Regions from separate parts of the Homo sapiens genome. Here regions 1, 2 and 4 are each linked to region 3. The links come from fine-mapping of genetic effects on gene expression. A gene starts in region 3. Each other region holds a variant in brackets. All regions are shown on one strand. Distances are from middle to middle. Region 1 overlaps TSPAN4 (tetraspanin 4). Region 2 overlaps CHID1 (chitinase domain containing 1). Region 3 holds the start of TSPAN4 (tetraspanin 4). Region 4 has its middle 8.0 kb from the start of NLRP6.

The links.
Region 1: its variant is fine-mapped to the expression of TSPAN4 in whole blood (TOPMed, PIP above 0.99).
Region 2: its variant is fine-mapped to the expression of TSPAN4 in nucleus accumbens (GTEx, PIP 0.99).
Region 4: its variant is fine-mapped to the expression of TSPAN4 in nucleus accumbens (GTEx, PIP 0.96).

The regions. Positions count from the first base shown.
Region 1 is chr11:861,764-869,763 of GRCh38, forward strand. TSPAN4 (tetraspanin 4) reads left to right here. Exons shown (of 9, transcript NM_003271.5): 4 at 787-978; 5 at 2,674-2,748; 6 at 3,750-3,851; 7 at 3,931-4,062; 8 at 4,155-4,238; 9 at 4,799-5,348. The coding sequence ends at 4,867. It overlaps CHID1 (chitinase domain containing 1), which reads right to left. Exons shown (of 13, transcript NM_023947.4): 13 at 6,096-8,000. Among named protein-coding and RNA genes, the nearest start is that of TSPAN4, 23 kb to the left of the region's middle. RefSeq lists enhancers at 1,966-2,499, 4,100-4,633. The variant G/A (reference allele first, on the strand shown) is at 4,370.
Region 2 is chr11:896,716-904,715 of GRCh38, forward strand. CHID1 (chitinase domain containing 1) reads right to left here. Exons shown (of 13, transcript NM_023947.4): 2 at 7,991-8,000; 3 at 6,247-6,396; 4 at 5,483-5,615; 5 at 4,221-4,265; 6 at 3,289-3,395; 7 at 2,625-2,686. Among named protein-coding and RNA genes, the nearest start is that of CHID1, 10 kb to the right of the region's middle. RefSeq lists an enhancer at 895-1,405 and a silencer at 6,705-6,875. The variant G/A (reference allele first, on the strand shown) is at 4,094.
Region 3 is chr11:838,061-846,060 of GRCh38, forward strand. It overlaps TSPAN4 (tetraspanin 4), which reads left to right and starts at 4,792. Exons shown (of 9, transcript NM_003271.5): 1 at 4,792-4,855. It overlaps CD151 (CD151 molecule (Raph blood group)), which reads left to right. Exons shown (of 9, transcript NM_004357.5): 9 at 73-771. The coding sequence ends at 132. POLR2L (RNA polymerase II, I and III subunit L) reads right to left here and starts at 4,469. Exons shown (of 2, transcript NM_021128.5): 1 at 4,354-4,469; 2 at 1,661-2,420. The coding sequence starts at 4,448. The coding sequence ends at 2,312. RefSeq lists enhancers at 1-900, 2,728-3,472, 3,473-4,218, 4,219-4,962 and silencers at 1,953-2,002, 4,231-4,860, 4,971-5,060, 5,081-5,310, 5,296-5,464.
Region 4 is chr11:266,401-274,400 of GRCh38, forward strand. No RefSeq gene overlaps it. Among named protein-coding and RNA genes, the nearest start is that of NLRP6, 8.0 kb to the right of the region's middle. RefSeq lists an enhancer at 3,080-3,149. The variant C/T (reference allele first, on the strand shown) is at 4,569.

The sequences.
Region 1 (8,000 bases), 24 kb after region 3:
AAAAAATTAACCGGGTGTGGTGGGGGCATGCCTGTAATCCCAGCTACTTGGGAGGCTGAGGCAGGAGAATCACTTGAACCTGGGAGGCGGAGGAGGTTGCAGTGAGCCCAGATGGTGCCACTGCACTCCAGCCTGAGCAACAGGGTGAGACTCCATCTCCAAAAAAAGAAAAAAAGAAAGAAATCATAACCAGGAGCAGAGTGTGAGGGAATCAGCGTTTCTCCTGCCACGAGTGACAGGGGACAGCTGGGGACATCACAGAGATCTTGTCGGGAGCTGGGAATCGGAATCCTGGGACCACCTGCCAGGAAGCCCCATCCCGGAGTGAGGGCAGGGCTGGGTCTCCCTGACAGCACAGTCTGGAAAGGCTGGAGTGGCCTGTCAGGTGGGGAGTGAGCCTTCTGCCCTGCGCAGACCAGACGGTGAAGCGGGGTTAGGGGTGTGCAGACTGCGTCCTGGGGCCTAAGATCCCGTCCCTTTGGCTCCAGGCCAGGGGTTGGGCGGATCCCTCCTAGAGGGAGTGGTTCAGAGGCACAAGGGAGCCTCCCCGACTGTGGCCATGGAGTGTGGGTTTGGGGATGGGGTGCCAGCCCAGGGTGTCGGGAAAGACTGGCCTGCCCTGGACACCCCCCCGGGCTGCCGTGGGATCTAGCAGGACTCTGGGTGGTTCTGGCTCAGGCTGGCAGGCGGCATGGCTTTGGGCTTGTGGGCCGGGCTCTGCCCTGGGGTCCAGAGCTTGCATTGGGGCCTCACCCTGTCTGTGTCTCTCCTGTTGCTGTGCCCCAGCTGGGAGGCTGTGGCGTGCTGGGTGTCGGCATCTGGCTGGCCGCCACACAGGGGAGCTTCGCCACGCTGTCCTCTTCCTTCCCGTCCCTGTCGGCTGCCAACTTGCTCATCATCACCGGCGCCTTTGTCATGGCCATCGGCTTCGTGGGCTGCCTGGGTGCCATCAAGGAGAACAAGTGCCTCCTGCTCACTGTGAGTGCCGGGGCCCAAGCGATGCTCCGGGTGGGACCACGCAGGGTGGGGCTCCGGTGGCCCCCAGGCCTTGGCTGCCGCAGTGACCCCCCAGACGTGGGCACCACCTCTGGGGCCGGACCTCCAGGCTGGCAGTGTGGCCCGGGGCCCTGGCCACTGTTGGGTCTTCCAGGCCACACTGGGGCTGGGGGGTGATTTGCAGAGCGGTGTGGGGGTCACTCAAGAGAACGTGCTGTACCTTGTCAGGGGCCTCCCCTGACGGGACACTGGCCCTGGTGAGTGCAGGCACAGCCCCGCACACACGTACACACGCATGCGCAGCCTTTCACGGGCTTGCGGTCTCCGTGACTCATTCCTGACCACCCCACCCCCACTGTGGCCCCTTCCCCAGCTTCTTGTTGGGGGCCTGGTCTCTCAGCTCCCTGGGACCGGCTGCTGGGACGATCCCAGCCCCCACCTCGCCTCGGGGATGGACTTACAGGCAGGGATATGTTTATCCTCCTTAGAAATGTTAATCACAGATAATTAAAAAGGAAAAGGGCTCCTAGATGGAAACACAGGCTTGCTACTGATTAACATGCCTGGCCGAGGCCGTGGGCCCTGCGGAGGGTGTGCAGCCTGCTGAGGTCCTAAATCACGAGGCTTCCGATCACTCCTTTGTCTGGGAAGCCCTGGATGGGTTGGGGCCTCCCTTAGGTCGCCTCAGCCAGTCCACTCCCCTCCGTACCCCTTCCTGGGGGCAAGCCCCAAGTCTATCAGCCTCCCTGGCATCAGGTTGGGGCCCAGAGACCCCTGGAGGCAGTCGGTGGGGGTCTGTGGCAGCCCTACTGGGGCTTGGAGCTCCTCAGTTGAGGAAGCTGCTGTGTGTGGGCCCCACCAGGCCTGCAGGGACCGAAGCCCAACCCCCTTTCCCATGGGTGACTTGGGACCAGAACCCTGGGTACCTCCTGGGGGTGAAGGACTCCTGTGTCCTTAGCCCAGCACCCTGTCTGCCCCACTCACGCCCACTCTGCCTGGGCCCCCCAGCTCCTGGACACATGCTGTCCATGCCTGCCCTCCTCTTTTGTGGGTGTCACTGACCCCCGCATGGAGGAGCAGCAGGGCTGGGGTCAGGCTGAGCTTTGGGGCTGCCGCCAGGCGGGGGAAGCTTGCATGGTCAGAGGTGGGGCTTGCAGCCTGTGGTCTTGCTGGAGGGGGCATCAGCCACGCTGGCTGCCCTGAGGACTGTGACGTGTGGGCAGAAGGGGCCTCTGCAGCCCAGCTGTGGCCCCTGCTGGGACATCTTCCCACCATGAAGACAGGCACCCAGCGAGGCACCTGCCAGACACTCAGAGGCCCCTGGATGGAGGTGTCCTGAAGGCAGCTGACAGGGGCTGGGGCCTCAGGAACAGGGATTTGTGCCCACTTGGGGGTGTCTGGGTTGCCCCAGGGATGGGGGCAGGGGAGGGGAGCCCAGGCCAGCCCAGGGCCCCACACTCAGGGGCTGAGCAGGACACAACAGCCACAGTCCCTGGACCTGGGGCCAAGGGTTCTGAGGTGGGGGCGGCGTTCTGGGCTCTCTGGGAGTGGGGGCCTGGCAGAGGTTTCCTGGCAGCACCAGGTATCCATGAGGTACGTGGCCCTGGCCCCTGGCATGCTGTGGGGCGGAGGCTGTGCGGCCTTTCGGGTCCCTGTCTGAGCCTGCCCCCTCCACAGTTCTTCCTGCTGCTGCTGCTGGTGTTCCTGCTGGAGGCCACCATCGCCATCCTCTTCTTCGCCTACACGGACAAGGTACGGCTGCCTTGGCCGCAGGCCCAACTGCAGGGCTGGGGGCTCCATCCTCACTCCCAGGGAGCACTGTGGGCCCGGTGTGGACAGAGTGGCCCTGCATGTGCCCTCACGGGCAGCCAGGACAGCGGGTGTGGATTTACCAGGCCTGGAGGGGCAGCGCCAGCGACCCTGGGAGGCTGTGCTGTGGCTCTATAGCGACTGGGGCACAAGGGCACTGCTACCCCACCCGGAGGGTGCGCCCCAGGTTGTCCCCCGCCCTCTGACGCAGCGTCCTGAGCCGTCTGCTCCCAGCGCCCCATCCGGGCCGCGCACCGTGGGGTTCTCCTCTGTAGAGCGGCCTCTTCTTGGTCACTCACTCATATATTCAGCCATTTGTTTATACTGGGATGAAGTCCTGGCTATTGAGGTTGCACTCCGAGCTAGAACACACTACTTTGTTTTGTGAATCACACTGTCCGTCCTTGGCCCTGGGGAGCTTCTGCCGTCTGCTGCTGGGTCCCCTGACGTGCCCCCATCAACAGACTTTTCATTTTGGGGCACGTCCTGACTTCCTGGCACTGCAGGGCGCTCCAGGCTCCTTCATTCCCTGCCCTGGCCCAGGAATCAGCCCCTTCTCCAGGGTGCTCTGGGTCCTCACTGAATATTGGGGACCGAGGCCAGGGTGCTGGGTGGGCTCAGCGCTCATAGCCCCTGGCTTTCAGCTCACAGAGCATGGCTGCACGTGTCCCGATACGTGGAGGCACCTGTGTCCCTGTCCTCTGTCCCCCCAGGACCCATGGTCCTCCCCCAGCCTGGGGAGGAAGCCCAGAGGTGGGGGCCCTGGGCCTCAGGGCTGCTGGGAGGACATGGGGCCGGTGTGTCTGCAGCTTGGTGGGCTAGGAGGCGCGGGGGACACAAGACCAGGCGCAGGAGGGGCCCAGCTTAGGGGCCGGCGAGGGGGTCTGGATGAGGGAGGCGGGGTACAGTGGGAGGGGCCCTGCTGACCCCCCCCGCACCCCCAGATTGACAGGTATGCCCAGCAAGACCTGAAGAAAGGCTTGCACCTGTACGGCACGCAGGGCAACGTGGGCCTCACCAACGCCTGGAGCATCATCCAGACCGACGTGAGGCGTGGGCAGGTGGGCGGGGTCGGCGGGTGCCCCCTCCCCTCCTGCCTCAGCCCGACCTGAGCTTGCCCCCCAGTTCCGCTGCTGTGGCGTCTCCAACTACACTGACTGGTTCGAGGTGTACAACGCCACGCGGGTACCTGACTCCTGCTGCTTGGAGTTCAGTGAGAGCTGTGGGCTGCACGCCCCCGGCACCTGGTGGAAGGCGGTGAGTGAGACCCCCACCCTGGGGGCTGGTAGGGGCCTAGAGGGCGGGACCAGCAGGCCCTGCCGTGACACGCATGACATCCCTCCCTGCAGCCGTGCTACGAGACGGTGAAGGTGTGGCTTCAGGAGAACCTGCTGGCTGTGGGCATCTTTGGGCTGTGCACGGCGCTGGTGCAGGTATGGCCTGGGGGCCTGCGGGCTCCCTGCCCCCACTTTGTTAGGACCTTCTGAGCCCAGGGAACAAAGTAGCAAAGACCTTGCCCCCAGGAACCCACGATCGGGGGAGGCCGGGGCAAAAGCAGGAGGGC[G/A]AGTTCAGGGGGATGGGCAGGGACGGCCTGTGGGGACAGTGGGCTCCCTCTTAGTGGACAGAGGCAGAGGCTGGTGTGGGGTGGAGGCCGGTGGTCGTCCATGTTGGTCGGTGGCCCAGGACTGGCCAGTGCACAGAGGGTGGCAGCTGGGGCCCTGGTGCCAGTGGCCCCTGGTTTCCAAACTCCACAGCCCTCAGGAAGTTCTGGGTGTCCTCATGCCTGCAAGGCTCAGGGGAGGGTGCTGTGGCTCGAGCCACAGGGGTTGGGTGGGGCGTGCAAGCCACCAGGAAGCTGAAGGGCTCTGCCACTGTGTCGCCCACCCTGGGGTCGGGGTCAGGGCCAGGGCACCTGCTGAGGACAGGGACTGCTCTGGGCTTGAGGCCTGAGCCTGTGGAGCTGCCATGCCCAGTCCTCCTCCCCTACCTACAGATCCTGGGCCTGACCTTCGCCATGACCATGTACTGCCAAGTGGTCAAGGCAGACACCTACTGCGCGTAGGCCGCCCACCGCCCGCTTCTCTGCCAAAAGGACGCCCACGGGGAGATGGCCGCACCCACAGCTGCCTTTCCCACCACCAGCCTCGGTGCTCTGCCCCATGCTGGGAGGAGGGAGGGAGGGACAGGTGCCTGGAGCCCCCGGAACCCTGTTTCTGGAAGGCCCTAGCTCAGGTGGCTTCAGGGCCTCCGGACCCCCCCTGGGAGGGGTGGCCACGTGCTGGCTGCGGAACCCAGGGCAGGGGTGGGAGGGGCCTCCAGCACTTTTTATATTTACGTATTCTCCAAAGCAGTGTTCACACGGGAGCCAGCCTGTGGCCCCCAGCCTCCTGGAAAACAGGTTGGCGCTGGAGGAGCCGGGTCTTGGCATCCTGGAGGTGGCCCCACTGGTCCTGGTGCTCCAGGCGGGGCCGTGGACCCCTCACCTACATTCCATAGTGGGCCCGTGGGGCTCCTGGTGCATCTTAATAAAGTGTGAGCAGCAACCTTGCGTCTATTGCTCGTCTGCCTTCCCTACCCTATCTTCCCTTCTGGCACCCAGGCCTGGGGCAGGGCAGCCTCTGGCATGAACGGTGCTTAGGCAGAGCCCTGGGGCTGTGGGGTCACCTGGTGCACAGGCTTGGGGGAGCTGCCTGCAGAGCAGTCTCCAGACCTCTGGTTTTAAGGAAATCATGACATTAGCTCTAAGAAGTGATGAGGCCGGGTGCAGTGACTCACACCTGTAATCCCTTCGGCTTTGGGAGGCCAAAGTGGGTGGATAACCTGAGGTCAGGAGTTTGAGACCAGCCTGGCCAACATGGTGAAACCCTGTCTCTACTAAAAATAAAAAATTAGCCGGGCGTGGTGGCGGGCGCCTGTAATTCCAGCTACTTGGGAGGCTGAGGCAGGAGAATCGCTTGATTCCAGGAGATGGAGGTTGCAACGAGCCGAGATCGCACCACTGCACTCTAGCCTGGATGACACAGGAAGAGTCCATCTCAAAAAAAAAAAAAAAAAAAGTAATAAAAAATAAAGTGCCAAGGCCCCTGGGGGGCCGTCCCTGAACTGCCAGCCTTTGCTAGGGGTGGCCTCCCTCTGCTTCACCCCCCCACCCCGGGGGCTCCTCCTGAGGCGGGCCTCCCTCCACATCGCCCCCTACCCTGGGGCCTGCTGTCGAGGCGGGGCTGTGCTTTTCCCCTATTTTGTTCCTAGAACTCTGCCCCTTTAAGTGAGCTGGCAGCACAAAGCACCTGTCACAGGGCATGAAAAAAAATGCATCAAGGTGCCTCAGGATTCTCACAGCCAGGGGTGAGGGTTGTGTGGGGACCCTGGCCACAGGGATGACGGTCAGTTCAGGTTGGGGCATCTGATCCCCAAACTGCACCCCACAATCTCATTTCCAGCTAATTCCTGCCCCACCCTCTGCCCATCCCCCCGGGAGACACAGCCCGCTCTAGACATCCCATCCTGTGTGGCATCCCCACCCCTGCCTCCACCCAATGCTGATCTGGCAATGCCTAGCTCCAGGCCCACACCACCCTCCCAGACCTGCGTGTCCCCCACCCTCACTCCAACAGAAGCCACAGGACCCCCGAGAACAACTTGAATGTTAGCGTCAGCACCTCTGGGGAGACAAGGTCAGTGCCCCAAAGCCAGTGGCAGCTTGTGTTTTTTTAGACAAGGTTTTTGGAGTGCAGTCGGTCACAGCTCACTGCAGCCTCAACCTCATCAAGCGATCCTCCCATCTCAGCCTCCTGAGTAGCCAGGAGTACAGGCACATGCCACCATGTCTTGCTAATTTTTCTATTTTTAGGGGGTAGAGACGGGGTTTCACCATGTTGCCCAGCGTTCCTCCCGCCACGGCTTTCCAAAGTACTGGGATTACAGGCATGAACCGCCGCACACACCACTTGTATCTCCTATGCCCGTGTCAAGCAGCAGCAGGGCGGTGGGAACGGCTGCACCTGCACTGTGGCAGCTCGCAGGCCTCCCTGACGTCCAGGCGGAGGCTTTCTCAAGTGTGGGTGCCTTGGGTCCGACCCAGGACCCCCTCCCCAGCTCCCGTCCTGTGGAGGAGACCCCACCATGCTTCCTCACCACCGGCTGGAGATGTCCTGACCCCCTGCCCACTGCGCCCTAACATTACTGACTCTAAACCAGAACCCAGTGCCCACCCTGTCCTCACCGTCCTCACCCCACGGCATTCTGAGTGAGGGACGCCCAGGCCCACCCACTCCCTGGACTCACTTCTGTCCCCCCGAGAGACCTTGCCCGGGACATGTACCCACCTATGCCCTCTACTGCCCACCTCAGCCCTGTGGGACCCAGTGGTGAGGAGGGGAGTCCTCACGGCCAGCCAAGGACAGGATGGTGACGAGGGGCAGGGGAACGAGGGCCACCAGGCCTTGGCTCATGATGCCTCCAAATTCCCCAGGGCCTCCCCAGAGCCTGGACACCGCTGCATGGCAGGGTGGGTGTAGCCTGCCAGCCACATGTCCTCTGCCCCACCCCTCGCTGGAAATGCCTGTCCCGATATGGCCCACGGGTCCTGCCGTTGCCCCTCACCATGCTCCCTGATGTGTCCAGGCTGGCCTGGGGGTCGTGCTACCTGAGGCGGCAGAGCTGAGCCAAGGTCCAGGACCAGTTTCAAGAGGGTGGGCCAGGCTCCTCTGAGCCCATTTCTAGGGCAGCCCCTGCACCCTTGCCGTGCTGGACTCGGTGGGGACGTCTGGGTGGCTCTCTGCAGGTGACACACGTGCTGTGGCTGGCCAGGTGGGTGGCAGGTATGTGGGGGTGGAGCTCTCAGCTCTATCACTGCCAGGCCCTGGGGTGATGCTGGGCAGAGCTGTCCCTGCGAGGGCCCTCGAATCCAGGAGTGGGCGAGTCCGGGATGGTTCCAGAGCTTCCAAACCCACATCCAGCCCAGGATGTGAGAAGCAGCCCAGAAAGGCCTGAGCCAGGCTGTCCTGGTGGGGCAGGTACTGTGGGCCCCGCCTGCCCAGCTGACAGGAGGCAGCCAGCGGATGCCCGGGTGGGAGGGGCTCGAGCTCTCAGGGTGTCCCCCAGCTAGGACTCATCCAGGGCAGGGACCCCTCATGGGAGGATGGGGAGTCACATGGTGCCCAGGACCCCCGACTGAGGACTGCAGCAGACCCGTC
Region 2 (8,000 bases), 59 kb after region 3:
CACCCCAGACGTGAGGCTGTCTCAGCACCCCTAGCCTCCACCCCAGACGTGTGGCTGTCTCAGTGCCCCCAGCCTCCACCCCAGACACAATGAGCCTGTCTCAGGGCCCCCAGCCTCCACCACAGAAACTAAGCTGTCTCAGGGCCCCCAGACTCCACCCCAGACACGAGCCTGTCTCAGCACCCCCAGCCTCCACCCCAGACACGAGCCTGTCTCAGCACCCCCAGCCTCCACCCCAGACACAACGAGCCTGTCTCAGCACCCCCAGCCTCCATCCCAGACACGAGCCTGTCTCAGCACCCCCAGCCTCCACCCGACACAACGAGCCTGTCTCAGCACCTGCAGCCTCCACCCCAGACACGAGCCTGTCTCAGCACCTGCAGCCTCCACCCCAGACACGAGCCTGTCTCAGCACCCCCAGCCTCCACCCCGACACGAGCCTGTCTCAGCACCCCCAGCCTCCACCCCAGACACGAGCCTGTCTCAGCACCCCCAGCCTCCACCCCAGACACGAGCCTGTCTCAGCACCCCCAGCCTCCACCCCAGACACGAGGCTGTCTCAGCACCTCCAGCCTCCACCCCAGACAAGAGGCTATCTCCTGAGGAGCCTCTGGTGCCATCTCACTGCCTACCTAATGCTCTGAAACGGAAATGAGTGTGGCAAATCTCTGGTTAATAGACCCACTCTCCCAGGATTAGTGAGAAGGCTGGAAGCAGGCGGGCTCTGTCTCCTGCTGAGACACCCCTCTCCTCAGAGGGTAATGGAAGGTCAGCCCCGGCAGGGTCCACTGCCCACGGCTCAGCAAGAACCCCCCAAGGCAGGGCCTGGGATTGTCCCTCAGCCAGGAACGCAGGCACCTGATCCTCCGGCAAAGCTGGGGCCCCTCAGAGGCTGTGCAGACGACAGGCTCCCCATAGCCTTGCGGACATCCTTACCCCCACTGCAGTGCGCCTCCCAGCCTCCCTTCACACAGCTCCTTGTCTTCCTGCTGCTGCCAGGCCTCCCAGGAGGGAAGCAGACAGAGGAGCCTCTTGGACACATCCGGTGGGGGGCACACTGAGGGGTGCTGGCTGAGGGAGTGGGGTCTGGGCACCAGGATCCAGTGGGCAACCACATTGAGGGGTGCTGGCGGAGGGTGTGGGGATCTGGGCACCAGGATCCAGTGGGGAACCACACTGAGGGGTGCTGGCGGAGGGTGTGGGGGTCTGGACACCAGGAAACAGGACTCCAGGGCTCTTCTGGAGCCGGGGCCTGGGAGCAGTTCCGGGAAGAGCCTTGGACTGCTGCCTCCCAGCCAGTGAGTCCCTCAGAGCACAGTGGGAGGAGCGGCAGGGCTGCAGAGGCTGGAGCCACTCACAGGGGCAGGGCCTGTACCGGCTCCAGGCTGAGGGTCCTCTGAGCCCCTGGGCAGGAATCCTGCCCTACCCCTCATGGGCTCTGCCTCAACAATGTCCCTTCCCTCCCTCAAGCTTAAGATCTGTGTGGGGACGCTGCCCCAGGTGGGCAGAGCCTGGACCTGCAGCTCCTTTGCCCACAGCAGCAATGGGATGAAAGTGCCATGGCTGCTGCAGGGGACACCATGCAGCCTGAGCTCAGGCCCGGGCTCTTAAAGCCCAACCAGAACTACTTCAGGTGGTGGGGGCGGGGGAGCCGATTCCAGAACCCACGGCTCACACAGAAGGCTGAAGGGCTGGACAGCTGCCATAGGGCTCTGCTGTCCAGGCACCCGCGGTGGAGACCGCACCATCCTCGCTCGTTGCAACCAGTGGAGTGAGAGGAGTCCACCTGTCCTGAGCATGTCGAGGACGCCCCCTACCAACATCCTGGGGAGCAGTACTGTCCCCCTGCTATCTTTTGCGGGGCAGTCGCCCACTTTGGCAGAACAGGGAAGGTAGCTGTTTCGGTGAGTTGGCAGGGCTGCTTGGGCAGGACCAAGGAAGGGCCATTCCTCAGGGCTGTGGTCAGTCCAGTCCAGGCCAGGTGGGGGAGCCATGGCACTTCCTATCACTCCCTCCGTTCCTGGTCATGTGGCCCACAGGGAGTGGGAACCCGCGAGGGTCATGGGTGGGCTGGGCTCTGATGTGGCAAAAGGAGGCGTGAGGGAGTGCTGTGGCCGCCTCCCGGTGGAGTGGACTGCTACAAAGCCTGGGGGCCTGGGAGGCATTCCCCAGAGGCCGCCATGGCGGTCCACACCACGGGTCCTGGCCGTGCTCAGGGACACCCCCAGGAAGGCTCCCCGAAGCTCAGTGAGGAGTTTCTGCTTGTGTCCAAGCTCAACCTGCTGTCACCATCTGGGCCATCTTTCTCTTGCCAAGACCTCATGAATGAGGGTCCTCGAGTTCCTCTGACCGCCCAAGGGAGGCATCAGGCCTGGCGCAGCAATGCGCTCGGAGCCGGCTGCCTGCCACAGGCTGCTTCCACTTTTCTGTTCGGAGCCGGCTGCCTGCCACAGGCTGCTTCCACTTCTCTGAGCAGGTGTCCATCTTTTGTGCAGCCCCGTCCCCACCCCAGGCACAGGGACTGTGGAAGGAAGGCCCTCCCCAAACCCCTGGTCTTTCCTCCAGCCTCCTTCAAACACCAGGGCCAGGAGGAGGGCCACCCACCACCACCTGTGCCCACTCACACGCGCTTCTGGCTTAGCAGCTGGTTCCAGACCTCCACCACGAAGCCATCGAAATGCTGGTTCTGAAAGAAGCAGTCACAGGTGAGGAGGGCCTGGAGGCCCAGGAGGGATGGGTGGAAAGACAAGAAGCCCGCCACCTCGGCCCACATGGTCAGGTTGTGGCCTGGTCACTCACGAGGCAAGACCCAAGCCTGGGCTGTATGCCCAGAAGGGCCTGTCTGAAGGAGGAAGTGTGGGGGTCCCAGAGGAACAGGAGTGGAGGGGCCAGTGGTCTCGTGCATTCTGCCGACCCATGCACCTCCCCCAACCCCACCCCGGGGGTCTGGGGGCTCCCTGACCCGAGGCCCAGGCATACTGGCAGCCAGCAGGGCTGGGTCCCCTCCCAGGAGGGTAGCAGGCAGCTGGGCTTTGCCCAAGGGAAGAACCCTGGCCCAGCAGACAGGTCTCCCATGCCTGGGACCTCCAGAGGACCCATGGTCAAGAAAGCGAGCAGCAGCCTGAGCCTGGCTGATGCTGCCTTCCCTGGAAGATGGGGGCTGCACCAGAAGGTGCCCAGGGCAGAAGACAGAAAAGCCGAGTGGAGGCCTCGCGGGAGGCCCAGCCAGACGGCCAGGTGGGACCCGGGGGGCTGTGCTCAGAGGCTGGAGCAGCACACAGGTCTCACCTTTGCCACCTGGACCACGGTCTTGCTCAGCTCCTCTATCTCATCCTCACTGTCTAAGACGTTCCGGAAATCATCGTAAGTCCAGTCCTCAAACAGGAGCCGAGGCACTGCAGGGGCAACAGACACACACGGGGGCCGTGACTGGGAGATGCTGGAGGGCCCCTGCTGTTTGCTGCCTCAAAAAGGCATCCCCTTGGCCTCCAGAGGGAAGTGAGACCAGACAGTGAGGGGCAGGGAGGCCACCTGGAGCACCCACATGTCCAGAGAGGATGTCCCAGAGCCTCACAGGCTGGAGAGGGAGGGGTGGTGGGGAAGGAGCGAGCAGACACTGACAGTCCTGGTCCCCTGACACCAGCTCCCCACACGGCTCAGCATGGTTGTGGCCCCACCTTACAGGAGGGAGGCTGGGACAGACTCTGGCTGCTCCAGCTCAGCCCTGTCACCTGCTTCTAGCATCCCCCAGAGTCTCTCCCTTGGCAACTTGTGCTCTTAATCCACTGCCTCTGAGGCTGCTACTGGACGTGGGGACACATGTCCCCCCTTCCCCAGCCGTGAGCTACAGGGGCACAGATGGGCCAGGGTCAGCATCACCCTCAGGCCAAGCCCAGGGCTTGGCCCCAGCTGCCCTGATAGGACTCATCATGTGAATGAAGGAAGAAATGGGATTGAGAACAATTAGGGCAATGCCACTGGCCAAGGAGGTGCTGGCTTTGGAGGGCCACAGCCTGTGTGGGGAGGAGAGCTCAGGACTCCAGCCAGACTAAGGGCTGTGAATGCCAGGCCAGGGCCAGCCTCATCTCTGAGC[G/A]GTCAAAGTAACCTGTGCCGCAGCAGCACAGCCGGGTGATCAGGAACACGTGGAGACCCCAGTGCCCACCTGTCCACCCCCGCAGTTTGAGCCATCAGGGCCTCCACTCCTGGCCTGCCGCACTTACCTATGTGCAGGCCCTTGGCATGCTTCCTGACAGCTCGCATCCACCCTGTGGGACATGGAGGGGACAGTCAACACAGGCACGTGCGCCCAACTGGAAGACCCAGCCTACCTGAGGAGGAAAACGTGGCAGCCGCACAATACGCAATGGGAAGGGCAGGGGCGGGCAGGCAGGTGTGAGAACCCACCCCTCCCTGGCCCAGGGCTGGCTCTCCACACCCTCTTCCTGACCCCAACTCTCCACCCTTCTGGCCAAGGCCCCCTTCCTGACCCTGCAGAGCAGCTCTGAGCTTACCCTCCCTGAGCTGGGACAGCTCAGAGCCTGTGGCCGGCCAGGGGAACAGGCAGCTGCATCCTAGGGCCTGGGGACGGTCAGGGTTTCTCCGAGCTGAGGGATGGCCAGACCCGCCAGGCCCTGACACTGGCTGACATTCCATCACCTCCCCACGGTTCTCTCAGTGTCAGGGAAAACCACTCCTGCTCTCTGAACTCCAAAACTGCCTAACACTTCCCCTGCCATTTCTCTCTGTCCGAGCCCAAACGCAAGGCGCAGCCACGTAAACTCGGGCAGACGTCATCAGGTCAGGATGTGCCATCAGGAGGCAGCCTCCGCCTGAACCCCACCTTCCTCCCTGGCATTGAATGAAAATCGCTGAGAGAGGGACAGAGGAGGAGAAGCCAATGGCCCGTGCCGTTTGCTGCCCAGAGGCTGCCTGAGTCATTGTAGAGCCTGTCCTGCACACGCCTGTGTGCAGCCCGGAAGTGCAAGGGAAGGCCACCCTCACAGCCACCTGGACCACACGCAGACCTGGGCGGAACACTCTGAGGCACCAACTTGGCCTTGCAGAGGGTCCCACCGTGGCGACCACCTCAGAAACCCCCTCTACCAGGCCTGCCCTGCTCCACACTCACCTTCCCACTTAGCACACCAGCCCACACCATGGGCCTGCTCTGCCGGCTGGGCCCCAAGGGGTGAGGGCGTGGTTCTCACAGTCACCACACTCAACACTCACACCCACTGTCTCACACTTAGACATGTCCACACCGACAGTCACATTCAACACACTCACAATCTCTTCTCTCCCACATCATCAGTCTCACACTTACACACTCACATTCACACTTAAATCACGCAGAGACACACACACACTCCCATACAGAGACACCCACAGAGACATACCTACTCACACACACACACCCCTGCTCTCGCACTCACACTCTTTTCAGCCTGTGGGGCAAGCACAGTCAAGCAGGAAGGATGAGAACCTTGGTCCACGTCGTGGAGGCCCGTGACCTCAAACATCTCACGGCCACGTCTCTTCAGCTGCAGCCAGACGGGTGAGATCTGTGTGAACTTGCTCCCAAAGACCTTGGTGACATCGTAGCCATGGCTGTTCCACTGGCAAAAGATGGAGACATCAGACGGAGGACAGGTGAGTGAGCACCTGTCTCACCATGGTGCTGTCATTCTGGCGCCTCTGGACGTGCCCAGGGCTGGCCAGCGTAGACAGATACCAGCCCGGACTGACATCAGCTCCTGGCCTGGGGTATCCTTCTCCTACTCTGGACTGCCACTCACAGCCTGGGACCCAGGCCACGACATCCCTTTCACCAAAAGTGACTGGTGCTTGTCTTAAGCCCCACCTGGAGCTAGTGCACACCACTGCTGCAGGCTGGCAGCTGGGAACAGCAAGAGAAGAGGAGGCTGGGTGTGAGAACCCACCCCTCCCTGGCCCAGGGTTGGCTCTGCACATCCACTTCCTGACCCCAGACGACCTGCGAGCCCACCTCTGGATTCAGGGGGAACCCACAGAGATCAGCACAGCAAGCCCCTGGAGAGACCCCCAGGGTCTTACACTCTGACATCTCCAGAATGGCATCTCTCCCACCGTAGCCTCACAGCAGCAGCAGCTCCGGGAGATCAGAACATAGACCCCCATCACTGACTGGCCAGAAGAGGCCATCACGGGGCCAGGGCAGCCCACCTGAGCCTCAGGACCTCCCTCTGCACTGTGAGGGCCCCAACTTACTGGAGTGACATAGCCCAGTACATCCCCAGCAAAGTGTCTGTCCCGGGCCTTTGCCGAGCAGTAGCTGCGATGCTCAAGAACCACACTCTCAGCTTTGAGGTCCGTCACCACCAAACCCCGGTCTTGCACCGGCTTATCTGAAAACTGACTCTGAAATAAAAGGAGTGAGAGAAAAGCCTCAGTCATCTGTCCACAGTGTAGAGCACAGAGCCCCACCCAGCAAGTCCCTTCCATTCAGCCAGCAGCCGAGTCTCTGGATCCACACAGTGCTGCTGACCCGGAGACCCTGTATGTTGAGGATCGAGGCCACAGCAGGCAATTCAATTCAGAAGCACTCTGGCCGTCAACAGACACTGGCCGACGGTACAGGGCCTTTCCCACCCTTGCTCCGGGCTGGAAGGCAGGCAGGCAGACAGACAGTTATGGTGGCTCCCTCCTTGCATGTGAGGGTGGACGGTCTGCACCAGCTCTGGCCACTCGATACCCATCCGGGCACTCCAGGGCCATACGCTTTGCTGGACAAGAACATGCCAGGTGCGCTGGGTGCATTGGCTCACGCCTGTAATCCCAGAACTTTGGGAGGCCGAGGCAGGTGGATCACCTGAGATCAGGAGTTGGAGACCAGCCTGGTCAACATGGTGAAACCCCATCTCTACTAAATATGCAAAAATTAGCCAGGCATGGTGGCGGGCACCTGTAGTCCCAGCTACTCGGGAGGCTGAAGCAGGAGAATCGCTTGAACCTGGGTGGCAGAGGTTGCGGTGAGCCAAGATCGCGCCATTGCGCTCCAGCCTGGGCAACAAGAGCAAAACTTCACCTCAAAAAAAAAAAGAAAAGAACATGCCAGGCACACGCCACCATGCTGGCCAACCACTGCCTGCCACCGCCCCCGCCAACGTGACCCTGCTGGCCAACCACTGCCTGCCACCGCCCCCGCCAATACGACCCTACTGGCCAACCACTGCCTGCCACCACCCCCACCAATGCAACCCTGCTGGTCAACCACTGCCTGCCACCCCCCTGGCCAATGCGAGTCTTTTCCTGCCATGTCACACCTGCCCCTACTCCACCTCTGCTCCTGGAAACCTTCCATCCAGTTATCAACTTGTCTCTTCTGTCCACACTCTGTGGCCCGGCTCAGCCTCCCCTTGACCTCGCCCCAAGCGGCCCCGTGAGAGAGAGATGTCCACTGCATGGTTTATTTGCCCCCATACAGCACAGAGAAAGCATCTGCCAGTCCAGGACTAGGTCACAGTTACAGTCCTGTGGCAGGGTCTGGCCAGCGGCATGGGGACTGCTGGGGCTGAGAGGTGGTTCTATGAGTTTACACCCTTGAAGGTGCAATCCCCAGGGCCATCCCAGGGGAACGTCCCAAAAAGCATGAGGCAAACACAGCTCAAGGCCATGATAAAGACAGCAAGATGAAGATGCAGGTGATATAAACGAGAGGTAGAGCATGGAAACTGGCAACTGGCACATAAAACAAGCCCCACGTGGGGTGAGTGGGGAGGCACCCTGCTTGCCCTCAAAACCTGGCTCCAGAGGCTGCTCACTCAGAGGTGCTGACTGGCCAGAGCCCCAGAGCCACACAGGCCACCCACCGGCTGCGGGCTCATCAGGTGCCTTTGTGAGGAGCCAAGCCCCTCGAGCCTCCTGGCTCACAGGCCCCAGTGGACAGAAAGAAGAGGATGATGGATCAGCCCTCAGCCAGTACAGTCACCTCAAGTCCCCAGGCCACCCTTACCTTCTCCAGC
Region 3 (8,000 bases):
TGGGGACACGGGGCAGGGCGGTGGCTGGTGGCCCCATGACGTCTGCTTACGCCCACCCGGCTCTGCACACAGGTCTTTGGCATGATCTTCACGTGCTGCCTGTACAGGAGTCTCAAGCTGGAGCACTACTGACCCTGCCTTGGGCCTTGCTGCTGCTGCACCCAACTACTGAGCTGAGACCACTGAGTACCAGGGGCTGGGCTCCCTGATGACACCCACCCTGTGCCATCACCATAACCTCTGGGGACCCCAACCTCAGAGGCAGCTTCAAGTGCCTTTTGCTGCGCACCAATGCCCAGCAGGGGAGGTGAGGGGGGCTGGCGGGGCGAAGTTTGGGGGGTGTTTTGTGGGGCTCCCCAGACACACTCTCTGCCTGGTGGTCAGATGCAGGTTGGAAGGGGCCTTGCTGAGTGGCGCAAGGCCGAGCGTTCCCAGCAGGGGGAGAAACCCTTCACACCCCAGGCCCTTCAGGAACTGGGGCCTTGCCTTGCAGCCACATGGCCCCATCCCAGTTGGGGAAGCCAGGTGAGCTCTGACCCTTGGGCCTGGGCCTCTGCCCCTCCCAACCCAGCCCTCGTCTCCCTCGACAGCGCCCCTGCTGTCTTCCCCACCGCAGTCACCACCACCCGAAATGCCACGTGGTCACTGTGCACTGCCCTGTTCATGTGCCTCTGCGGGGCAGGGCCTTCCTGGTTTTGTTCACTGCTGTACCCAGATGCCTACAACCATCCCTGCCACATACAGGTGCTCAATAAACACTTGTAGAGCAGATGGACGAGCTCGCTGTGCTGGTAACAGATGGTGGTCTGTTCTCAGGGCCCTCGCATCCAGCAGGGCAGACAGACCCACCCCCGCCCCGCCCAGTGTCAGGACAAAGAAGGGCAGAGCCAGGAGGACACACCCCCCATGGGGCTCCAGGGAAGGGAGGTCTGATGCCAGGGACAGCTGAGCACAGGCCTCAGCAGAAAGAACTGAACATGTTCCTAAATGGTGAGATGGTGTGTTCAGAGCCCCTGGGGGAGAGGAAAAATGGTTTCCAAAACCCTTCTGGCCATGGTGGGGAGCAGACGTGGGAAGGGTGCAGACTGGGGGCCGTGCCCAGGTAAGAGGTGTCAGGCAGGTGGGGTGGGGGCAGTAGGGTGAGGGGGTTTACATGGAGGAGCCTATAGGCCCTGCTGGGGGCCAGAGGGTAGGAGGTACCAGAGCCTGGTGTCTGGCAGAGGTACCCTGGAGATGGGAGCCAGGGCTCGGTCACTGATTGTGCCCCCCACTGCCCAGGTTCCTGTCCTTAAGGCTCAGAACTGTAGACCCTCAGGCAGACCCGTTCTCCCCTACCAGAGGACACCACGCCAGATATCTGGGCAGCAGGGACATCTGACCTGGGGTGCTTGCTGGCAGCACTGCCTGGACAGCAGGGCCTCCTTAGGGCCACCTCCCAACCCAGCTAGGAGCGTCTTAAGGCCTGCCCTCCCTGCTGGGCTTGGGTGGGACGCTCAGGGACAGGCAGCAGTGGGCAGAGGCCAGCAGGTACTGGCAGCCCTGACCACAGCAGAGACTGGGCCCCAGAAAATCTGTTTCTCTCTTCTTTTTCATAGTTGTGTTGAGACAGAGTCTTACTCTGTTGCCCAGGCTGGAGTGCAGTGGTGCAAACACAGTTCACTGCAGTGGCAACCTCCCAGGTTCCAGTGATCCTCCTGCCTCAGCCCCGAGTGGCCGGGACTACAGGTGTGAACACTGTGCCCAGCTAATTTATTAAATTTTGTTGTAGAGATGGGGTCTCATTATGATGCCCAGGCGGGTCTTGAATTTCTGGACTCAAGTGATCCTCCTGCCTTGGCCTCCCAAAGTCCTGGGATTATAGGGGTGAGCCCCTTTGCCCGGCCTAAATCTGGCTCTTCAGATTCCGAGAGAGAGGGTACAGGAGCCTCTCTGCTCAGCCTGAAGAACACCCAGAAGGAGGGAACCTCAAAGAGCCCCGAGATGGAAGGCTCTCCTGGCAGCGCCTCCTGCAGGGGTGCCTGTGGAACAGGCTGGCCCCAGGGCTAGGAGAGTTCATGGCCCAGTCTGCTTCACTGGGCTGCCACAGTGTGAAAGCTGGGCCTAGACCTGGCTCCTGACATCCTAGTGAGGGCTGGGACCTTAGTGGTTCTGAAAGACCTTTACTGGATGGTTCCTTCCAGAGTGGGGTATCGGATACACACACACTGCGGCCAGGCATTACGCCAGCTCCCGGATGCCTCAGCCTCGTGAATTCGGGGCAGGACGCTCAGGGCCCATGGTCAGCACAGCGGGTGGGTGGGTTCCAGCGTGGTCACTTCTCCAGGGGTGCATAATTGAGCAGCTTCTCGATCAGGTCCACGTGGGCCAGCAGCATCCGGCGGCAGCAGTAGCGCTTCAGGCCCAGGGCATCCAGCGCATCCCTGTGTCGAGGGGAGGAGCAGAGGCCAACTGAGTTCTCTACGGTCTGCAAAGGCCTGGAGCCCACATCCAACCTGCCTCTCACTGCCTGCTGGCCTCACCCCCCCCGCCACCGGCAAGGCGAACAGATTCACCCGGCTCAGAAGCTGAGATCTAGCAGTATGATCCTGGCTGGAGTAACCTGGAAATGCCCAGAACCCTGGGTGGAGCGTGAGGAGCCTCCTCTCCCACCTACTCTGGCTGTACGTGTGTGTGTATAACGTATGTAAGAAATGTAAATGAAATGAAAACGAAGTAATTGCGGGGAGCTTAGAAAACCAAGACCACCAAGGTGCTGATGTGCAGCCACCTCATCCAGCACTGGCCACGGCAGGGTAGCTCTCCAGGGGCCTGCCCTTAGCTGGTTCACCCCCACCCCAGCCAGAGCAAGCCCTGCTCTGCCGCTGTGGGGTCTTTCCTCACCTCTGCTTCCTTCCATCAGAGAGAGACTGCTTCTCCACGGAGCCACCTCTCCCACTTCCCAAGCCAATTAGAAGCTTTCATTTCCCTGGGACCTAGCTCCAGTCACCCTCAAGACCTCCAGAAAACTCCCACACCGATGGCTCCAATGTGCAGAGACACAGAAGCTTGGGAAAGGGGAGGCCACATGGGAGGCCCCTGCCGTTCCTATCCGGGGAAAGGGTCTGGACAGGCCGCCAGCCACTCAGTCTAGCAGCCCACTCGCTTTCCTCGTTTGTCCAGCAAGCTGCACCAAGTGCCGATGGCAGGCTGGCGCACACAAGCCCAGGGCTTCACATGTGACGAAGACTCAGTGGGCGAGGGTCAGACTCCAGCGGGGGCACCAAGACTCAGGCACCGTGGTGACAGCAGCACCAAGGGACAAGCACAGGAGAAAGACGCCTCCCCTACAAAGCCTGATGAGGGTGGTCAGCAAGTCTACCCTGCATTTCTTTTTCTGTGTGTGTGTGTGCGTGAGACGGAGTTTCACTCTCTCTTCCAGGCTGGAGTGCAGTGGCGTGATCTTGGCTCACTGCAACCTCCACCTGCCTCCCAGACTCAAGCGATTTTCTCGTCTCAGCCTCCCAAGTAGCTGGGACCACAGGTGTGCACCGCCATGTCCGGCGAATTAAAAAGATAGAGCCAGGCGCGGTGGCTCACGCCTGTAACCTCAGCACTTTGGGAGGTCGAGGCGGGTGGATCACCTGAGGTCAGGAGTTCCAGACCAGCCTGGCCAACATGGCGAAATCCCATCTCTACTGAAAATACAAAAATTAGCCGGGCGTGGTGGCACACGCCTGTAGTCCCAGCTACTCGGGAGGCTGAGACAGGAGAATTGCTGGAGCCCAGGAGGCGGGGGTTGCAGTGAGCCGAGATCGCGCCACTGCACTCCAACCTGGGCGACGGAGCGAGACTCCGTCTCAAAAAAGAAAAATAAAATAAAATAAATTTCTGGAGATCAGGGTCTCCCCAGGTTGTCCAGGCTGGTCTCGACCTCCTGGGCTCAAGCAAGCCTCTCGCCTCGGCCTCCCAAACTGCTGGGATTACAGATGTCAGCCGCCGCGCCCGCCCGTCCTGCAGCGAGGTTTGCAGGACATGGGGTGGGCCTGGGGGCAGAGATGGGAATAGGGCGGAGGCCAAGGGCTTTACTGCGGGTGACAAGACGCCTGCGACCCGCCAGGCCACCTAGAATCCCCAGGACACCACTGGTTTGAAGCCCAACTCCGTTCTCTTCCCCAGACTTCAGGGGATAAGGTTCTCCCGAAAGCAGATCACAGAGCGGGGCTGGAGAAGCCGGGCCTGAAGCTGCTCATGGGGCGCTGGCCTCAGGCAGCGCTGCGCCTCCCGCCCCGGCGCGCACCCCAGGGCGGACTCAGCCCCCAGCCCCGGCCCGCGCCCCACGGCGGACTCAGCCCCTAGCCCCGGCCCGCGCCTCACCCCTCGGTGTACTCGGCCTGCAGCAGCCCCAGGTAAGCCTCCCACTTGTTGCCGACGATCTTGCCACAAGTGAAGCAGCGTACAGGGATGATCATGGCGGCGGCGCGTCCCAGACTGCCCGGCCCGGCCCGGCCGCACGCGAAGAACCCCCCCAGGCCCCGCCCCGGGCGCGTCCACTGTTGCGGGAGAATCGGCTCCGCTCGTTCTCCGCTGTTCCGGCCGTCCCTCCACCGGCCCCGCCACCGCTGGCCGCAGTTTCCGCCGCGATAGGGGCTTCCCGTGCGTCCCGGGGCTCCTGGGCCTGTGCGTCCCGGGGCTCCCGGGCCCGCGCGGCCGCGGCAGCAGCAGACCGCACACCCCCGCCCACCGTCTTGGTGCATCCCGGCGCTACGGCGTCTGAGCAGGGCCGTAAAGCTGCGGCGGCGGTTCGCGTTTCTCGTGTCCGCTTGACTGACAGCTGCGCGGCGGGAGCGGGCGGCGCGAGCGGGAGGCGGCGGCGCAGGTACTGCGCCTGGGGGTTGTGGGGGCGTGCGGCCAGGGTCCCGTGGCCGGAGGTGTCCGACCGGGAGCGGCTGGAGCCGGACGCGAGCGGGGCGCGCGAGTTCGAGCCCAGAGCCGACACGCAGCAACAAGTGGGGTCCGGCGCGGGGGCTCGGGGAGAGGGCGGGCGGGGGCCGGGGCGGGTCTTCCTGCCGCCCCTCCTGGCCGCGCCGAGTAGTGGGTTCCTCCGCCTCGGCCTCTGCCCGCGGGGTGTCCGGGGCTCTCGGCGCTGAGTTCGGGGGTCCCATTCTGGACGCGGCCCAGCCCCTAGGGGCGCCGCCCTGGCCTCAGCTGCGCAATTACAGCCCCCGCCGGCAGCTCCCCGCCCCGGGCTCCTGTCCGCGTTCTTTCCGCTCTTTCCCGGGAATGGGGTCGGGGTGCGCCCTCCCGGGTCCCGGCTCTGCTGGCTGCTCGCCGTCCCGAGCTCCCGACGCTCAGACGCGCCTCTGAGCACGGGGAGAGGGGACCCGGGAGGGAGGTCGGGGAGGGAGTCGTGGAAGAGGTGCTTTTTGAGCTGAACCTGGAAGACCCCGGCACAGGGGATCCCTGGGCAGACTCCCGGAGGCTGCACTGGCAGGACCCCCTGAAGGCCTCAGCTCTGGCTTGCCCTGGAGCTCAGGGCCTACGGACGACGAGGGACGAGGAGCCCGTGTCTCTCGGATGGAGTGCGGGGGGGCTGGCACCAGCACCCTTCTTGCTGTGCCCCTGGGGTGGGGGTGAGGAAATGGGGGGTCGGTGTGCAGTGAGAGGCAAAGAAGGCTCCTTGGAGGTGCGAGGTGGGCTGTGGGGGTGGGTGGGCCGCAAAGCGGCACCCATGGGGGGCTCTGGGCTGGTTTGCCGGCCTGGGGCTTCTGGCTGGGGTGGGACCTGTGTTGGGTTCCAGGCATCAGCTGCCGCTTTCTCAGGGCAATGCTGCGTCTGCCTTAGTTGCAGAGGAGGAGGACGAAGGGTTTTCTGGGTCCGGAGTGGTGCTAGCCAGATCCACTGCACGCTTGGGGTTTCCGCTCCCACCCTGGCCAGGGCCCTGGGCAGCTTCCCCAGTGGCATTTGCCATACCCCACCCAGCCACGTGCGGAGCCACGAGCCGAGGCCACTTCCCTTCCCTGACCCCCTCCCCCCAGGATGAGTGGACGCACATCCTGCTCTGGGCAGAAGGGCAGGACAGGGGCCCTGAGTAACGGTGGCCTGGGGTCAGAGCCAGGTTCAGCTGCGAGGCTGCTGGTGGCTGTGGAGGTGAGGGGGGCAGGGGGGTCCCGGATGTTAGCAGGGTGGGCCCTGGGGAGTGGGTGGGGGCCTGGAGGCTTCTTGGAGGAGGGTCCAGGGCCTGTCCCGCCCCTGTTCCTGCCTGCAGGAGTTGTTTACTCAGAGCAAGGGGTGGTGGGGAGTGAGCTGCTCTCCAAATCCTGGCTTGGGCCAAGCTGACATTCTTGGAATTCCGAGTGTGTGCGCTTCCTATCCCTCCATTTCCCAGCAGAGCCCCTGAGATCTGGAGACTGCCCCAGCCTCAGGCTCTGTGCATCTCCCCCGAGCCCCCACCACATATGTGCGGAGGCCCCTGGGGGCCCAGGCCTGTCCTCAGTCCCGACTGGGCTCTACCTGAGGACCCTGGGGAGCCTGGGCCTGGCCCTCCTCAGGCAAGCGGGGGTGGGAGGGAGCCTGGTGGCGGGGCAGGGCACTGTGCCCGCCAGCAGGGGCGGGTGGGGGCCCCTCTCTCCTGGGTGTGGAGTGTTGGCGCAGACTCGGCCTGGCTTCTGGGGGGGGGGGTCTGGGATGGGGCCAGGAGGGTGAGGCGCTGGTTTTATAGAAGGGGGCGTTGTGGAGCCTCCTGTGGTCAGGGCAGGGCACAGGGAGCAGAGGGTGGGCTCCCCCGGCTGCTTCCTGCTAGAGGAGGGATCACTTCAGGGCAAAGGACCAGGGGAAACCCATGATTGAAGTTTTAGCTGCTGACCCCTCCCACCCTGGGTGTTGCCCTGGAAACAGGCCAGCCACGGGACCAGGAGGGCTGGGAGGGGGAGCACGGGCTGAGCCCTGGCTGGGATTCAGCTGAACTTGCACTCTGGTCTGGGATCCCAGCCCACGTTTCCCTGTCTGTAAAGCTCAGGTGGGATCAGAAACTGCCCGCCCGGAGGGCTGCATCCCTCCTGCCGCTGAGGCTGGGCATGACCTTGACTGGGAGAGGGTGTTGAAGGTGTCTGTCCCCAGCCTCGCCCCCACACCTGTGCTCTCTGGCCCTGTCCATGCCTGGGACAGATGTGTGCTCACCCCCAGGGTGCTGTGGGATGGGGTGGGTGCACACGGCGCCACGAGCACACGTGCCCGACACCTCAGCGGTGCACACAGCCAAGGCCACTGCCCACCGTACCCACGCCGTCCGTGTCCTCTCTACGGTCCTGGGAGACTGGCGTTGTGAGCAGTGGGGCCTGTAGATGGGGCCGGGTCCTCTCTACGGTCCTGGGAGACCGGCGCTGTGAGCGGTGGGGCCTGTAGATGGGGCCGAGACTGAACTGACCCTAGCCTCACCACTCATATGTCGGGGCTGGTGATATTTGGGAATGTCACTGCCTGCCATGCAGCTGCCCAGGCCTGATGTGCCCCCCCAGACTGTTCTATAGGGGTCTAGGTTGCAGGGGCCAGGGCCAGGGCTGTGGTGGGATGGCACCTGAGGTGCGGCTGCTCCTGGAGCCTGGGGGGTGTGGGAAGGTGCCCCCCACCCAGGGTCCTAAGTCTGTTGCCTTCACCCCCGACTCCCAGCAGATAAATACCCAACAGTGCAGGAAAGGATTACAGGGAAGGCCTGGAGTGTGGGGTTAGCCTCGGTGGTCCCAGGAGGAAAGACTGGGGGACCTCTGGACTATCTGTCCCTCCCCTGGGGCTGCTGGGGGTATCAGAGTGGTGTCTCCAGCCTCCAGGGCTCAGGTTTGGGTGGGAGGGGCCTGGTCCCACCCAGACTCTGTATGTAGCCCCCAGTCCCTGCTCCTCTGTGTGCATGAGGGAGTGCCAGCTTGCTTGGGACCCCCCAGGGTGAGGGCTTGGGACGGGCACTGGGGCCCCGCAGGGGCTGAGGCAGCCAGGAAGCCCACAGCATAGGCTGTTTGTGTTGGCGGGCC
Region 4 (8,000 bases), 570 kb before region 3:
ATGATCCACCCGCCTTGGCCTCCCAAAGTGCTGGGATTACAGGCATGAGCCACTGCACCTGGCCAAACAAATGATATTTTTAAAAGCATAAAAAATATCAAATGTAAGATGGGCATAATATTTACATAGAAAACTATAAAACATTCTAGAGAGATGTTTTTTAAATGCCTTAAATAATTGGTAGGTTATATTATATTCATGAATTTTAAAATAGATTACTTTGACAATTTTTATTCTCCCCAAATGGAACTATAGGTTCAGTAAAATTCCAACCAAAATCCCAACAGGTTTTCCATTAGTGGGAATTCAAAGGCTAATTCTAAGATGAAAGCAGAAATGTGAAGGACAAGAATAGCTAAGACAGCCATGAACATGAACAAGAATAAAGGTGGCGAACTGACACCCCAGACTTATTATCAAGCTATAGTGATAAGTATAGACAGTGTGGTAATGGCACAAATAGATCAGCGTCACAGAATGTCTGTATAATTGCCCCAGAATTGGTCTGTGGTACCACACTAAATGATTCACAGAGATTCTTTGTGGAAAGAACAGTGACTTTCATGGAGGGAAAGGTCATTTTCACTTTTTATTTCATACATATTTATACTATTAGATTTTCTTAAAATTAACATATTCAGTCATTGCCTATAAAATTTAAAATAATGCCAGTGGGGGAAGCCCTCTGGCGCTTCCATTGCCTGTTTGAAAGTTACTGGGCTCACTTGTTCGGGAAACATCAGCTGCTCCCACTGGGTGCCAGGCCCTGTTCTAGGTGCTTGGGAAGTGTCAGTGAGCAAAACAGACAAATCTCCAGCCCACATGGAGGGGTGAGGAGCAAGGAGGAGGAGTGAGGAGCAAGGAGGAAGGGCAAGGAGCGAGGAGGAGTGGGGAGAAGTGAGGAGGAGGGGGGAGGAGCGAAGAGGAGGGGGAGGAGCGAGGGGGAGGAGCGAGGAGGAGGGGGAGGAGCGAGGAGGGGGGAGGAGCGAGGAGGGGGGAGGAGCGAGGAGGGGGGAGGAGCGAGGAGGGGGGAGGAGCGAGGAGGAGGGGGGGCGAGGAGGAGGGGGAGGGGCGAGGAGGGAGGGGAGGGGGAGGGAGAGGGGAGGAGCAACGAGGAGGGGGGAGGAGCAAGGAGGGGGGAGGAGCGAGGAGGGGAGGAGGGGGAGGGGCGAGGAGGAGGCGGGAGGAGCTGGACAGGACATCGTGCCAGCCCGAGGGCGGAATGAACTTCAGAGAAGTTTGAGAGCAAAAGGTGCTTTGCTGCTGTTAGACCCTGAAATTCCACGGGTCCCTGGACAGTTTTGGGAGCCGGGAGGGTGAAGAGAGTGGATCAAGCTTCGTGGGGTGGACCCGGAAGAGATGGGGCAGTGAATGGTTCTGGGGGACTGCGGGAGCCTCCGGGGAGTGATTTTTTGCCCTGAGGGGAATCACCGCAGCGGGGACAAGGCTGGGGGAAAACACTTCCTTCTGCAAGGGCACTGCTGAGCCTCACTTGCTGGAGCTTGCACTGTGCAACGGTAAATTCACGTTGTGTGCCCTCACCTGAGCTTCTGATGAGGACGCTGGAGGGCTTGGCCCTTTGAAGTCCTCACCTGTCCCTCCTTGGGCTGGGGGTGGTGACTAGGAGGGGCTGCACGGCTGCTGCCCGGGTTGGTCCCGGCCATCCCAGCTCCCTGGTAAATAGGCTTCTCAAACTAGGATACCTGGGCCTTGGGCGTTACCTGCAAACCCTGTTCCTCGCTCTAGTTCCCCACTTCCATCCCTCCTCTTGCCTCAGCCCTTCTCATCTCACACGCCACATGGGATCCACCCTTTTTACGCATGTGCAGAGCGTGGCCCCTCTCTGATTCCCTTCCCCTCAGGAGAGCCGGACGTCTCCCTCCCTCACACCCTCCCCAGCCCCACAGCAGCCCAGGGAGCCTTGCCCGCTCCTCGGCCCCCCTGGCTCTCCCAGCCACCCAGGCCTCCTGTGTCCTGAGTGGGCCAGCTCCTGCCAGACCACGGCCCTGCCCTGCACCTGACTGCGTCCCCACCGCGGACCTGCCCCCTCGTTTATTCTCCTCTCTCCGCTCTGCTCTGTCCTTGGCACTGTTTTTGTTTGTTTTTTGTTTTTGTTTTTTGAGACGCAGTCTCGCTCTGTCACACAGGCTGGAGTGCAGTGGCGTGATCTCTGCTCACTGCAATCTCTGCCTCCTGGGTTCAAACTATTTTCTTGCCTCAGCCTCACGAGTAGCTGGGATTACAGATGCCCGCCACCACGCCTGGCTAATTTTTGTATTTTTAGTAGAGACGGGGTTTCACCATGTTGGCCAGGCTGATCTCGAACTCCTGACCTCAAGTGATCCGCCCGCCTCTGCCTCCCAAAGTGCTGGGATCACAGATATGAGCCACCGCGCCCCGCCCTTGGCACTGTTTAATCCATGTGTTGTTTATTTATGTATCCTGTTTATTTTCTGTCTCCCAACAAAGACGTAGCTCCTTCTGGGTAGGGCATTTTGTTCATGCTCTCAGATGCCGCCTACCGCCCTAGAGCAGGAAATAGCGGTCAGCGCCAGCTGTGAGGAGCACAGCATTGCGGCCAACACAGGAGGCACTGACCACGGGGCAGGCGCTATTTAAAAATCGTGGCAAAGGATCAGACGTAACAGAACTCTTTTTGTTTTAATCATTTTTAAGTGTGCAGTTCAATGATGTTAGTTACATGCACAATATTGTGTAACCATCACCACTATTTCCAAAATCCTTTCTATCCGTCAGACAGAAACTCCGTCCCCATTAAACAGCAACTCTGCATTCCTCCGTCCCCCCAGCCTCTGGTCACGTGTCTCATCTACTTTCAGTCTCTACGGATTTGCCTGTTCTAATTATTTCATAGAAGTGGATTCATACAGTACGTGTCCTTCTGTGTCAGGTTCATGTCACTCAGCGTGATGTGCCCAAGGTTCACCCATGCGTCGGGCTCTCATTCCTGAATCGCATTTCTCTGTACGGATAGACTGAGTTTTGTTTGTCTGTTCACCTGTTTAGGAACACTTGGTTGCTTCCACATTTTGACTGTTATGAATAACGCTACTAGCAAAGTGAACACGAGTGTGGTTTCAGTTCCTGTTTTCAATTCTTCCGCGTCTTTTAAGAAAAAACAAACTGTTTTCAACAGTTGCATCATTTTACCGTCCCACCAGCAACATGGGAGGCTTCCCATCACTTGTTTTCTTCATGTTTGTTTTGTTTAGTTGCATAATAATTGCCATCCTAGTGGAGGTAAGAAGGTATCTCACTGTTCTTTTCATTTGCATTTTTGTAATGACTAACGAGGTTGGGCAACTTTTCACGTGCTTGTCAGTCATTCGCATCTTTTTTTTTTTTTGAGAAATGTCTATTCAAGTCCTTTGCTCATTTTGAAATTGTGCTGTTTGGGTTTTGGTTGTTGATTTGAAGGAGTCCTTTTTATATTACGTATATGAATCCTTACCAGATATATGATTCGCAAACATTTTCTCCCATTCTGTGGTGATCTCTTCAGCCCCTTGATAGTGTCCTTTGATGCACAAAAGATTTTAATTTTGATGAAGTACAATTTATCTTTTTGTTGTTGTTGTCATTGCCCATGCTTTTGGTGTTATATCTAAGAATCCAAGGTCGGCCGGGCACGGTGGCTCACGCCTGTAATCGCAGCACTTTGGGAGGCCGAGGCAGGTGGATCACTTGAGGTCAGGAGTTTGAGACCAGCCTGGCCAACATGGTGAAACCCCATCTCTACTAAAAATACAAAAATTAGCCGGGCATGGTGGCAGGCGCCTGTAATCTCAGCTACTAGGTAGGCTGAGGCAGGAGCATCGCTTGAACACAGGAGGTGGAAGTTGCAGTGAGCCGGGATCGCGCCATTGCAATGCAGCCTGGGTAATGGAGCAAACTCCGTCTCAAAAAAAAAAAAATAATAATAATAATCATCATCATCATCATCCAAGGTCATGAAGATTTCCCTACATTTTTTCCTAAGTGTTTTATGGTTTTAGTTCTTAAATGTCAGCCTTGGTCCATTTCCAGTTGATTTATGTGAAGGAGGAGGCCCCGCTCCACTCAGGCCCGACTCTTAGTGTTTTAATATCACCACTTTGAGATCACAACCACCTTAGGGAGCAGGAACCGTCCATCCACAGACACAGAAACTCACCTAGAGTGTGTCCAGGGTCACAGAGTGACCAGTGAGTGGCAGAGCCAGGAGCTGGACCAGCCACCCACTCAACAGGGTGCACAGGACCCCAGACCCCCAGGCTTTACCGCCTCTGGACACCAATGCACAAGAGAGTAAACTTGGGGAGTACCTTAGGCAGGTGGTCAGAGGCCTCGGGAGAGGAGACATTTGAGCAGAGAAGGGAGGTGGTGTGGCAGCCGTGTGGACCTGCTGTGGGTGTGTGCACCAGAGCTGTGCTGGTGAGCGAGGAGGAACTACCCAGGAGGGCACACTGGACCAGGGAGAGCCAGCCCGACGGGGGCCAGCTGCCTTTCCCAGCAGGCAGCGGTGTGACCCTCGGGGCAGGGGCTCGGTCCACTGTAGCACAGGGGAT[C/T]GGGAGGCAGAGGGTCCCCGGGCCTGTAATGAGGAGGAGGCGGGACCCAGGTCCTGGTGGGCTCCCGAAGTGCAGCAGGAAGGGCCCTAGTGCTTCCATGTCACCACCCTGATGGCCTTGGCAGCTGGGAGAGCCCCCTGCCCTGCAGGGCAAGAGGGATTTTCCGCCCCAAGGGAGAGCGTCATATGCCCAGGAGGCAGTTCTGCCTCTGGCTCTTTGCTCCTCCCAGGCCTCCTGTCCTCTATGTCCTTGGAAGTAAAGGGGACAGGTCCTGGGGCTCCACAAAGATAGGCACCTCCTCTCATCCACCTAATGAGGCAAAAGAGGGGGTTCTGCCTCTGAGGCTGAGGGGCCCAGCCCCCTCTGGAAAGAGAGTCCCACTCATGCCCCTCCACCAGGCCCCACCAACAGGAGGCCCTGGCGGCAAGGCCCTGCCTCCCCAGTGAAGACCACCAGGGCCTGGGGGCCAGGGAGGGAGGCTGCCCCCGGCTGGTGAAGGGACACCCCACAGCCACCAGCGGCCACGATTAATCCACACTTGGGGACAGCTTTCGTTCTGAGCAGCTCAGCTCTGAGAGGGAATTGGATACAGGATGGATACCTTGCGGGCTCCTGTTCTCCGAGGGTGGCAAGGGTTGGTGGCATGATGACCCTGATAAGACTTTACGGCCCCTGTTCTCCAGGGTGGGGCAGATCAATTGCTGTTCTCAAGGTCCTGCCAGGGGCCCTTCCTGAAGAAACAAGCAGAGGCTTTGATTTCCTGACCTATCTCGGGAAAACACTTGAGCTAATAATTAATCAGATTATGGATACACTGGCTTTTTTTGTCTTATTTTTTAAATTGTGGTAAAATTTATATAACATAAAATATACCATTTTAACCATTGCTAAGTGTGCATGAAGTACATTCACATCGTTCACCCATCACCATCGTCCCTCTCCAGAGCTTTCTCATCTTCCCAAACTGAGACTCTCTCCCCATTAAACACCCATTTCCCATCCCCTTCCCACAGCCCTGGCCCCTGCTGTTCTACTCTCTCTGTGAGTCGGAGGCTCTAGGGGCCTCAGGTAAGTGCTAACACACAGCATTTGTCCTTCTGTGTCTGGCTTATTCAATGTCCTCAGGGCCGTCCATGTTGCAGCTGTGTCCAGGTTCCCTTCCGTGTTGAGGCCGTCTTACTTTTGAGACCAGTTTGAACCTTTCTTTCTTCGGCTGCTCTAGCAGGTTTCCTGGTACAGTGAGTGCCCAATGGAACGAGCATTTGACCAGCAGCTTCATGGGGGAGGCGCTTTCTCTCTGGGTCTCTGTGGGGAAGGGAAAGACCTTCCTTAAGGAGCACTGGACGCCCAGCACCTGCCTTGGAGGACAGTTTGCTTTCGTGGAAGATTGGGCCACAGAGAGCATTGCTGTGGAAGGAGGCGTCAGAAGTGGGGCCAAGTGCACGTTGCCCTTCCACCTGCGGCCTTGGAGACAGGTCCAAGGTGTACGAGTTACGAAGGCCTTGGGCCGCATGAAACCGAAACCCACAGGAGAGTCGTTCTCCCAGAACAAAGCCCCGAGGTGGCCTCCCAGCTGCCAGAGTCATCTCCTCTGGCTCCTGGGCCTGGGCATTGCTCGTGGACCTCCAAGTTTTGTGTCCATGTCCAAGAGGACAAAGACGGAGGGAGGCCAAGAGCCAACGGCCGTGGCAGCTCCACCCACCACCCAAGCCCACCCAGCAGGCTCCCTTTCCCCTCATTGCCCAGACTGTGTCCCAAGGTCACCTTCTGCAAAGTTTTATGGGGAAGCACTTTGCTGATCCACACACACAGGGTTCTGTCGGTAAGAAGAGGGGAAGATGGACCTCGGGTTGGCAGCAAGCAGGTCCTGCCACTTTTGGTTCCATTTGGGACCCCCAAAGGCTCTGGGGTGAATCGTCCCAGAAGGAGAGGTTGATGAGTTGATGAGGCGGGGTCTTCGGCGCCGCCCCCAAGAGGAGCGCAGAGGAGAGAGAGGGCTAGCATCGAGGAGAGAGGTGTGGGGGGTCAGAATGTTGGGGGCCCAGGGGAGAAGGACAGAGGAAGCGGATGACAGTGTAGTACCAAAGGGCTGTCGATGAGTGACAGGAACAGAGGGGGAATTTTCAGCTGCTGTCCGGAGTGTAGGACTCTGTGCAGAAGGGTACAAGCCTAAAGGGTTTCTTCAAGGAAAACTGTGCTCTGTGACATGGGTAGACCCTGGTACTGTCCCTTTGCGGAAGCGGAACACAGATCGCCATTGTCTTTTGAACCGAACTGAAGATTTCTGGAAGCAGCTGTGGCCCCTGGGTCATGAGGCTGTTTAGATTTATATGGGTTCCATTGAGGATTCTCAGGGATTTTGGACCTAAATTTGGTAACTGTTGCACCTCGAACTGAAATATCATCCCACCATTGAGCAGAAGGACAGCATCCCTAGCCTGGGCAACATAGGGAGACCTTGTCTCTAAATAAATAAATAAAAATTAACCAGATGTGTTGATGCATGCCTATAGTTCTAGCTACTTGGAAGGCTGAGTGGGAAGGATCCCTTGAGCCCAGGAGTTTGAGGTTGCAGTGAGCTAAGATCGCACCACTGCACTCTAGCCTGGGCGACAGAGTAAGACCTTGTCTCTAAAAAAAAAAAAAAGAAAGAAAGAAAAGAAAAAAACAAAGAAAAAAGAAAGAAAGATAATTCTTTGTATATTTTGGATAACAGTCCTTTATCAAATATGTGTTTTGCAAATATTTTATCCCAGTGTGTGGCTTGTCTCCTCATTCTCTTAATACTATCTATTCCAGGGCAGAAGTTGTACATTTTAATGAAGCCCACTTATCAATTGTTTCTTTTATGCACCATGCTTTGGTCTATCTTCTAAAAGTTTTGTTGTTTTGCACTTAACATTTGGGTCTATGATATAATTTGAGTTAAATTTTGTGAAACATTTAAAGTCTGTGTTTAGATTTTTTTATTTGTTTTTCATGAGACTATCCAATTGTTCCAGCATCATTTGTTGAAAAGACTATCCTTTTCCTTTGAATTGGCTTTGCTCCTTTTTCACAGATCACTTGACTATATTTGTGTGTGCCAATTCTGGGCTCTGTATTCTGTTCCACTGATTTATCTGTACAGTCTTTTGCCAATATCACTATGCTGATTGCTGTAGCTTTACAGTAAGTCTTGAACCGAGCAGCGTCAGTCCTCTGACTTTGTTCTTCTTCAGTATCATGTTGGTTATTCTGAGTCTTTTGCATTTCCATATAAATCTTACAGGTTTTTTTTTGTTTTGTTCTGTTTGTTTTGTTTTGTTTTTAGAGGAAGGGTCTTGCTGTCACCCAGGCTGGAGTGCAATAGCATGACCTTGGCCTACAACAGCCTCAATCTCTAGGGCTCAAGCAATTCTCCCACCTCAGCCTCCCAAGTAGCTGGGGTTA